Linked DNA regions of Homo sapiens: region 2 is linked to region 1. Evidence: fine-mapped expression QTL. A gene starts in region 1. The other region holds a variant in brackets. All regions are shown on one strand. Distances are between the middles of the regions. Region 1 holds the start of THBS4-AS1 (THBS4 antisense RNA 1). Region 2 has its middle 32 kb from the start of THBS4-AS1.

Region 1 (5,382 bases):
TCACAGTGAGATGATCATGTTCTCAGCCCTATTAAGCCCAATGCCCCTTTTTTATTATAAATATTTTGAAATGCCCCCTTTTCCGTCCCAAAATGGAATCATAGAAATTACAACCTACCTACACGTATAATCTAGAAAATCAATGTGAGCCCTAACAATATCATAGAGAAATAAGAATAATTTATAACAAAATAATTTAAATATTTGAGCACAGCCACACCAGAAGACAAAATGAAACAGACACTTGCACCCATGCCTAGAATCACTACGAAGGTGACATTCTAACAGACTGTTGTGTCAGTGACTTAAATGTTTGTTACACTGGTTGATGACAGCAATGTAAATTTCTCAAATGGTACACATTTTAGAATGTTAATTTTCAAACAAATTTTCTCAATTTACCCTGGAAAATATAGTTTATATTAAAATTTGTGCAAAATATACTTGCTGTTTACAAGTGAAAGTGAGTCAGGTTCTAGGCCCTGATAGTTGCTCTTTACCTACCCTGGTGTCTGAGGAACACTCCAGAAGTGTATGGAATGCAGGACAGGTTTTGATTGTTCTCGCCAGGGCATTGCTCGCCATCCAGCATCCCTGGCTGCCATCACTCAGTGCCACTGTGACAACCCAAAGTGTCCCCACAGATTCCTCCAACTCTACTTAGGGAGTGCTGTCTCCTGTGGAGAATCATTGCTCTGAGATTCCACCAAAAGATATAAATCAGACCAAAGGAAAAGCCAAAGTTTTTAAGCATGGTATCTAGACAAGGCAACTCACATGACAATAAGACACAAAACTTTCTCACTCAAGATAGCAGGTTTGGTTTGGTTTGATTTTTAACTCAAGTTTGATAGTGTGACCAACATCATGTTAGGCCTTGTGAGAGACAGAAGTTGGGAAGAAACACCCCCCACCCCCCTCCACACACACACGGACACACACGGTCCCTGCCCTCAAGGACTTCCAGTCTAGTAAGTAAGTGGCAACAGCTACAGTACAATCCAGGTCAGCGAAAAATGGAGCCTAAAACAGAGCAAAGAAAGACGCAGGTACGTATAAGAAGTGGGGCCCCTGGGCCTCACAGTGGGCACTTTACCCCGGGTTGGATTTCATGGAGGCCCCTCCGGCCGTGTTGTCCGCAGGGTACGATTTTATGAAGGCTCTGAGTTGGTGGCTGACTCTGGCGTCACCATAGACACCACAATGCGTGGAGGCCGACTTGGCGTTTTCTGCTTCTCTCAAGAAAACATCATCTGGTCCAACCTCAAGTATCGCTGCAATGGTAATGTGCATTCTCGTTACTGTTCAACATTGTTACTAGAATTAGTCAAACACTGCCACCTTATTTTTATACCGCACTTCCCCCCCAAAAGCCCAACGCTCATACCACATAGTCATTAAAACCTGATAGTCCCTGTGTACCAGAAGTAAAAAGCAGATCACATTTATCCTATTTTATCCATGTGGAAATTAAGACCCATAGAATTTAACTGCATGGTTTAGGGTTTGGGGTTCAGTGAGAAATCCAGTCAGATTTAATTTACAGGAAGCCTTTATTTTCATGTGGTTAAAACATAATCACAGATGCAAAATCCATTCTGCCTGCTGATTTTCTGCACGGCCGGGAAGGAGCACTCCTGGGCTTTAAGCCAACGGTTTGCAAAGCAGCCTGCAGGAGAAAATGGCGGCGAGGGCCTGCGGGGCGTCCTGGGCGGGCTAACAGCGCCCCCTACAGGACGCCTGAGCCGCGGGCGGGGGTCCGGGGTCCGGGGTGGAAGGAGCCTCGCTAACCTCCCTGTGCCCATTCCTATTGCAGACACCATCCCTGAGGACTTCCAAGAGTTTCAAACCCAGAATTTCGACCGCTTCGATAATTAAACCAAGGAAGCAATCTGTAACTGCTTTTCGGAACACTAAAACCATATATATTTTAACTTCAATTTTCTTTAGCTTTTACCAACCCAAATATATCAAAACGTTTTATGTGAATGTGGCAATAAAGGAGAAGAGATCATTTTTAAAAACCGTGTTGCTCAGACATTGCTCTCACGTGGCTCAGGCTTTGAGGTGCCCGTTCTCGGAGGGATCCCTGTTAACTTGCAGGGTGGTAGTTTCTTCTCAGACCCGGTGGCCGATAAGATGAGCCTATGCGTGAATCACAAGGCCCAGGCCAGAGGTCTCAGCTGGGGTCCCCCCAGTTTGCTCCATACAAAACGCCTAACCGTTCCATGCTCACCTTGGCAGCCTCCTTATTTCGGGTAAGGGGTCTCAGAAACACGTGTTTGGGGTGGCACCTTCCCTAGGGAGGCGTTTTTCTGACCTAGTCCTGGGACAGATTTGCCCAATTCTTTCTGATGCTGTCATCCCATCCCACACCTTCCACAGACTTCTATTCTGGCCCCTTCAACGTAATTCTTAAGCTTATTTATATATTTGGCTCCCCCTAGTGGACTGTAAGCATATTGACAATAAAGGATCATGTCATTACAATCAATATCCCCACAGTACCTGGAATGTAGTAAATAGCCAGTAAATGTTTACTGAATTAATAAACGAAGAATGAATGAATGAATGCCTCTTAAAGGACAGTAGAGTGTACATGATCATAAAAGTCCTCCTCAACTCAAAAAGTCACAACATATCCTCTATTTGTGGTACCAGTAGCTGGATGTACAGCACAGAAACTTGCCTAATTTGTACACTAGCCTTTCTTGTATTTCAATTGTAAATCAAGATCCAAGCAAATTTTTATAAATTCTCTAGAAATTTTGTTTCAAAGAATATTGCTGTGCGGTTATATATTTTCTTATTCCAGAATTCCTAGAGATATATTAAATCATGTATGAAGAAAAAAACACCACAGTTTTATCATGACTTTAACAGTGAGAAAATACAATGGTGCATGCATGAGATCTGGAGGATTTCTGGACATCCTCCTCTCATGTACAGCCTGGAGATGTGTGTGGCCTTGTAATCCAGGACATCTGATCTCCTACATCAAAAACTCCAATGGGGCCAGGTGTGGTGGCACTTGCCTGTGGTCCCAAGCACTTTGGGAGGCCAAGGCAGGCAGATCACTTGAGGCCAGGAGTTCAAGACCAGCCTGGCCAACGTGGCGAAACCCATCTCTACTAAAAATACAAAAATTAGCCAGGTGTGGTGCCACTTGCCTATAGTCCCAGCTATTTGGGAGGTTGAAGTGGGAGAATCACTTGAGCTGGGGAGGCAGAGGCTGCAGTGAGCAGAGATTGCACCACTGTACTCCAGCCTGGGCAATGAGAGTGAGGCTGGTGAAAGGAGGCAGCAACCCACACCATGCCCACCCCTGGGGCAGCCTCCCTGTTGTCGGCTGTGCAAGCCCAAGAACGCAGTATGTCCACAGGAAACAGACTCTCTTGGTTAAATCTTTTGTGTCTATAACTATTTTAGAAACCATGGGCCCACAGGAGATCCAGAACATAATTCCATCCCTTAGGGAGCTTATTACATTTTTGGGAAGACAAAACTTGTTATTTATGCAAAACAAGAAACAAAGACGCATGTAGAACCAGCAGTGTGCTGAAGCCAACTCCTACCAGCTCATAAGAGCCAACTATTCAAGTTTTAGGAATATTGTGAGCCAGTTAAACGGTTGGTAGTTTGAAATTGGCCATGGTGGGAGTATTTACACAGAAACTGGCAAACACTACAAATCAGGGCTCCAGAGAACTGGTTGTTAAATATTTATCAGCACACAAGTGATTATTCTACCTTGTCCTATTCCTAGTTGGCCCTCCTTATATTTTTGAAGCTGATGTAGAAAACTTGAGGCTTTCAGAAAATTTCTTGCATAAGAAATGAAGTAAGAAAAGTGAAAATGGGTGGGGTGCTATGGCTCACACCTGTAATCCTAGCACTTTGGGAGGCCTAGGTGGGAGGATCGCTTGAGGTCAGGAGTTTGGGACCAGTCTGGCCAACATGGTAAAACCCCATCTCTACTAAAAATACAAAAATTAGGCCAGGTGCAGTGGCTCCTGCCTATACTCCCAGCTCCTCAGGTGGCTGAAGCACAAGAATCTCTTGAACCCGGGAGGCGGAGGTTGCAGTGAGCTGAGATCGTGCCACTGCACTCCAGCCTGGGCGACAGAGCAAGACGTGTCTCCAAAAACAAAAACAAAAAAAAAAAAAAGTGAAAATCAGGAAGCACTTGAGAGAAGCTAGCCAGTTGCAGACTGACGGGATGAGCTAGCAGGTGTGGTATGCTCTCCCCCAGGTAACTCCCTGGGCTTCTTGGATACTTGTTATACTCAACCTTAGCACAATGACTCAAATTCCTATTACAGTTCCATTAGGTTAGTAAGAGCCTCATTTGAATCTTACACCTCTAGGACTGAGTGGCCATCAGTCTCTCACCAACTAGTATGAATTCATTCCAATGCCCATTCACCTCCTGACTTTTCATGGAGATCGAGAAGACTGAGGAGCTGGGCATGGTGGTGTGCACCTGTGGTCCTGGCTACCTGGGAGGCTGAATGGGGAGGATCACTTGAGCCCAGGAGTTCAAGTCCAGCATGGGCAACATAGCAAGATCCTGTCTCACTTTTTTTTTTTTTTTTTAAGTACTGGGGGAATGGGAGGCGTGGCTGGGAAAGAAAAGAGGCATTGTCACTGTGGGGGAATGGGAGGCGTGGCTGGGAAAGAAAAGAGGCATTGTCACTGTAGGGAAAAGATCATGGCTGAGTAGAATCCCACGGGAAGTGTGGGAGATCTCTGGGGGCAGGATGAGGGCACTGGGGGCAGCCAGAGGAGGCCTGGGGGCATGGGAGCAGGTGCACAAAGGGATGTGCAGCCCTTTTTGCCTACACTCAAGAAAAAGGAAAAAAAAACTCTTCCTTCTCCCCATCCAGGTTATTAGTCCTAGGCTCCAGAAGTATTATGGTGATTATCCTTAGGTTAATTTTGGAGACAGGCTATAGAGTTAAAGAGAATGAGGAAGATATAGAATCCAGCCACCTGCTATTGAAACATCTGTAGGCATTTTTTATTGCCTAGGCTAGAAGATAACTGGGAACAGACTCAAGCAGCAAAAAAGAATCTGGTCCAGAAGTGAGGCCGTGGGCAAACTAGATACTGTACAGCATAAATCTAGGGGTGAGAGGTGGGGTGCCCCTGTTTGGGATACACGCCTGGGGTCCCCAGTAACATCGGGACTGTAAGGGTGGCTCAACCTTTCAGTGGCATGAAGAAACCCCCTGCAGTGTCCACAGCTCCGCATCTTACAGCCCCGCCCAATTTGGTCATAGGCAACCTCAGGAGACAGAGACGCTCACCCCAAATTTCCTGGGGCAGTATAGTTTCCACAGTGGGTGAGGGTGTTTTATTCCAGAGAAATAATTCTAGTAC
Region 2 (5,382 bases), 32 kb after region 1:
GTTTCAAGAAATGATCAGCATTGTCCATTATCTTCTTTTATTTTTTCCCAATTTGGTAGGTAAAACTAGTATCATTTCTAGTCTGCATTCTGCTTGACTCTCGTGTGGCTGAACATTTTTTTCTGAGTGGCATAGCCATTCATGTTTCTTCTGTGACGGGTCTGGACACATCCTCAGTGCTCTCATTTTCAGGAGAGCAAGGATGGGGAACGAGGGGATATGCATTGTATTAGTTTGTTTTCATGCTGCTGATAAAGACATACCAGAGACTGGGAAGAAAAAGAGGTTTAATTGGACTTACAGTTCCACATGGCTGGGGAGGCCTCAGAATCATGGCAGGAGGTGAAAGGCACTTCTTACATGGCAGCAGCAAGAGAAAAAGAGGGAGAAGCAAAAGCAGAAAACCCTGATAAACCCATCAGCTCTCATGAGACTTATTCACTATCACAAGAATAGCACGAGAAAGACCGGCCCCCATGATTCAATTACCTCACCCTGGCCCCCTCCCACAACATGTGGGAATTCTGGGAGATACAATTCAAGTTGAGATTTGGGTGGGGACACAGCCAAACTATATCATGCATCACCACCTGATGGCACCCACCCATAACCTCTGCCATGCTGTGTGCCCCCCCACCCATGCCTGTGGGCGAGGCTCCCCAGGCCTGGTGCCTTTGCTGCCAGACTCTGGGTACTTCCATTCACACTCCCATCTCTGGGTGTCCTCAAGATAACCCGATGTTCCCAGGATCCTTCCCTCAATTAACAATGACCTGCCCTAGCCCCATTTCTTCAGCACCGTCTCCATGCTAAGTTACAAGGAGTGGGCCCAAACAAACAACTGAAAGCTAAACGTCTTCACCTAACCAAAATGTTGGCCGTCTGTATTAGTCTGTTTTCATACTGCTATAAAGACTACCTGAGACTGGGTAATTTATAAAGAAAGGAGGTTTAATTGACTCACAGTTCTGCATGGCTGGGGAGGCCTCAGGAAACTTACAATCATGGCAGAAGGTGAAGGGGAAGCAAGGCACATCTTACAAGGCAGCAGAAGAGAAAGAGCATGTAGAAGAAACTGCCACTCTTAAATCATCAGATCACGGCTGGGTGCAGTGGCTCACACCTATAATCCCAGCACTTTGGGAGGTTGAGGCAGGCAGATCACTTGAGGTCAGGAGTTCGAGACCAGCCTGGCCAACATGGTAAAACCCCATCACCACTAAAAATACAAAAATTAGCTCACCATGGTGGCACATGCCTGTAACCCCAGCTACTTGGGAGGCTGAGGCAAGAGAATCGCTTGACATCTGGGAGGTGGAGGTTGCAGTGAGCCAAGATCATGCCACTGTACTCCAGCCTGGGCAACAGAGTGGGACTCCATCTCAAAAAAAAAAAAAAAAAAGGTCAGATCTTGTGAGAACTCCCTCACCATCACAAGAACAGCATTGGGGAAACCGCCTTCATGATCCAATCACTCCCACCAGGTCCCTCCCACAACATGGGGGGATTACAATTTGAGATGAGATTTGGGTGGGGACACAGGGCCAAACCATATCACCACCCACAAAAGCTTTTTGACAAATAACTCTGACTAGGAATTGTAAGAAATGTTTTTAAATGAGTAAGGTGGAAGCAAACATTATTCCCATTTTATAGACAAGAAATGTGTGTCTCTGGATCTGTGACACTCCATAAACCAGGGAAAAGGCAGAGACAATGACTGATTTTCTGCCGCCCAATCCAGTTGCCCAACCCTCCTGGCTCAATGCCAGGACTTCCCTGTCTTTGATTAGGGAAAGTGGAGCCACCCACTCCCTACATGCAACTGTTACACACCCAGTGTCCCAGAAATGACATTCAACTTCACTATAGCGACTGCTTTTACTGACATCATTTTTAGCAGACGTTTTACTATAAAAATGGGTGGGGAGAAATAAAGCAGATAAACTGCTGCCAAGGACCATCACTGCTAGGGTGAAACTGGGGGCACACGGTATAGCTCAAATGCACCCCAGGTCCAGCCCAAGCCTTGCTCAAAACCCACCCAGGAACCAGACCTATCATCCAAGGTTGTCTCTCCAATGACCTTAGCAGGTTCAGAATAACCCTCTAATATTCCTCATTTACTGTAGTTGCTTATTATGAACCCACCAACTATTAATTCAATCTTTTTTGAATTCTCAGTTTTCAGTATATTTCTCTTCAGGCTGTGGTACATATCACAACATATAGTAATTATTTGCTATTTTCTGCTTCCCTGTCTAGACTTTGAGTAAGTTGAGGGTAGAATTTGTTCTATTTCATAATCTTAGAATTTGACAAATAGCAGGTATTCTTAACCATAATTTTGTTGAAGGAAGGAATCAATGAATAAAAATTTCCTGAGTTTACTGTTTACTGCAAAAAGACTGTATGCTGTTTTACGTTTTCTTCTTTTAAGGTCTAACATCAATATGTTGATGTTTGGTAAATATAATTTCAATCCCAGTTGCATCTCTGAGTCCAGGCAAGAGTACTACAAAAAGTATAAATAGAGGTCAAGTGCAGTTGCCCTCTGCAAGCAAGACCACTTAGAACTCTTCAATGGCTCTTTGACAAACCTTCAGTGGGATTTCTGTCAAAGCTGACAATGGATAAAATTATAGAAAGGAGGGAAAGCCTTGATAAGGAGTCCTTAATGAGTTCGTCACTAAGTTAATTCAACATTGAAAGGGATAGAAGATGTTAATTCCACACACACGTGAAAGAAATCAACAATCAGGCCTCATCTGAGAGAACCATGATGGGGAAGGCTGGGGCTGATGGATGAGGGGTGTGAGGCAGGGCAGAAAGCCTCCACGTTGCTGCAGCAATGCAAAAATAGGCACCTTGCCGTAGGCCTCTCTGGCACTCCATCTTGTCTCTCTTCCCTGGAGAAAAGGCAAGCTGTATTCAATCATCTTTTCAATGCTAAAACCAGGCTTTCCTGTCGGAGTTGGGGCCAGAGATGTTTCCATCCCCTCTTGCAAAAAGGGTATTCTTAAGAGGCCTTAAGTCTTCAGCATTGATAGTTTCTGGGAACAAAATAGAAATCAAAATCTCACCTTGTGTTCCCTTCCTCTTCCTGGACAGAGAATGGGACAGGCCCAGGCCATCCAGATCACTATGAACCTTATCAGAAACTTCAGTCCATTTTCTCCGTTCCCTTCCCTGGGACTTGCATGCTATAATCTCCATACCCCTCCTTCCCCACTC[T/C]CCAGGCTTAGTGGGTGAGGCAGAGAGTGAGAGCCAGGCTTACCTGCCTTTTCTCCTCAGTGGGAAGAAGCTCAGTAACTGAGCTCAGACGCTAGTGGCATACCTACCAAGAGGATGACATAAATGCCTCCTGTGGCCCTGAGATAGGCAGAGCTCTGCTGGCAGCCCAACCATATGTTCACTCGTTCATTAACAAACATCCACAGAGGCAGGCTGCTCTGGCCTGGAGGGGGATGTCCTACACTAGACGACTCAGGTTCATAGAGCCAGGCCTCATTCCACCCCCACTGGCTCAAGTGACTTTCTGGTGACCAGAAACTGGAGAGCTCTTTTTTTTTTTTTTAGACGGGGTCTTGCTCTCTCGCCCAGGCTGGAGTATACTGACACAATCTCGGCTCACTGCAACCTCTGACTCCCAGGTTCAACTGATTCTCCTGCCTCAGCCTCCCAAGTAGCTGGGATTACAGGCGAGTGCCACCAGGCCCATCTAATTTTTTGTGTTTTTTAGTAGAGACGGGGTTTCGCCATGTTGGCCAGGCTGGTCTCAAACTCCCGATCTCAGGCGATCCGCCCGCCTCAGCCTCCCAAAGTGCTGGGATTACAGGTGTGAGCCACCATGCCTGGCCCAGAGCTCTTAACTACAATGACTATATGCAGAAGAACAAACTAACACGGAAGATGGCTAGGAACTGCGTAAGCCAAGACTCTGCAGTAAGACACACTTGAGTTCTGGTCCTCACTCTGCCGTTTACTCACAGTCCAACTGCAGATGGGACCTCACCTCTCTGAGCCTCAGTTTCCTCATTTGTAAAATAGGCAAATATTGGCACCTACCTCATAGAATTAGTGCGAGGCTTAACTGAGGTGATCTAGGCAAAGCACTTAGCTTGGTACCTAGCACATATTAAGTGCTCAATAATAGGTGATGGTGATGATGTAAGTTGGACACAAGAGAAAAGGACACATACTAACTGATAATCACACAGAGCCACTGACTGGATTTGGTATCTTTCTCTGACATTCAGCTTTTCTTACCATCTGTCAGCATGCCACACTCCTTCAGCCTTGAATTATATGCTGCCTTGTGGTTTTGCTCTTATAAAACAAATAGAATGTACTAGTCTTCCTGTGGCTACTGAAAAAAAAAAAAAAAAAGACCACAAACCAGTGATTTACAACACAGAAAGTTACTCTCTCACAGTTCTGAAGACCAGAAGTCTGAAAGTACTATGTTGTCAGGGCTGTGCTCCCTCCAAAGGATCTAGGGGGTGATCTATTACTTACTTCTTCCAGCTTTGGGTGGCTGTCAGCATGCCTTGGCTTGTAGCTGCACCACTCCAATTTCTACCTAGTCTTCTTATCATCTCATCTGTGTCTGTTTTCTCCTCAGTGTGTCTCTTATAAAAACACTTGTCATGCCAGACATGGTGGCTCATGCCTGTAATCCCAGCATGTTGGGAGGCCGAGGTGGGCAGATCACTTGAGGTCAGGGGTTTGAGACCAGCCTGGTCAACATGGTGAAACCCCATCTCTACTAAAAATACAAAAATTAGCCAGGCGTGGTGGCGGGCTCCTGTAATTGCAGCTACTCAGGAGGTGGAGGCAAGAGAATTGCTTGAAACTGGGAGGCGGAGGTTGCAATGAACTGAGATCACACCATTGCACTCCAGCCTGGGTGACAGAGCAAGACTCCACCTCAAAAAAAAAATAATAATAATAACTTGGCTAATCCAGGGTGATCTCCTCAAATCAAGATCCCTAATTTCATTACGTCTGCAAAGTTAACATTTACAGTTCTGGAAATTAGGATGTAGACGTCTTTTTGGGAACCATCTATCTTAGACTGTTCAGGCAACTATAACAAAATACCAGATGCTGGGTAGCTTACAAACAACAAACATTTATTTCTCACAGTTCTGGAGGCTTGGAAGTCCAAGATCAAGGCACTGGAAGCTGTAGTGTCTGGTGAGGTCTTTTAACTATGTCCTCATTGCGGAAGGGGCCAGGGATCTCTCTTCCTTTTATAAGGCTTCTAGTCTCTTTTTTTTCTTTCTTTCTTTTGAGACAGGGTCTCACTCTGTCCCCCAGGATGGAGTACAGTGGCACAATTTTGGCTAGCTGAAACCTCTGCCTCCCAGGCTCAAGTGA

The links. PIP is the estimated chance that this variant, and not a neighbour inherited with it, causes the effect.
Region 2: its variant is fine-mapped to the expression of THBS4-AS1 in blood mononuclear cells (TOPMed, PIP 0.93).

The regions. Positions count from the first base shown.
Region 1 is chr5:80,081,264-80,086,645 of GRCh38, forward strand. THBS4-AS1 (THBS4 antisense RNA 1) reads right to left here and starts at 2,402. Exons shown (of 8, transcript NR_109930.1): 1 at 2,237-2,402; 2 at 1,097-1,274. THBS4 (thrombospondin 4) reads left to right here. Exons shown (of 22, transcript NM_003248.6): 21 at 1,143-1,282; 22 at 1,817-2,024. The coding sequence ends at 1,878. RefSeq lists silencers at 1,711-1,800, 2,916-3,130 and an enhancer at 4,563-4,857.
Region 2 is chr5:80,113,271-80,118,652 of GRCh38, forward strand. It overlaps a transcript of SERINC5 not described here. Among named protein-coding and RNA genes, the nearest start is that of THBS4-AS1, 32 kb to the left of the region's middle. The variant T/C (reference allele first, on the strand shown) is at 3,235.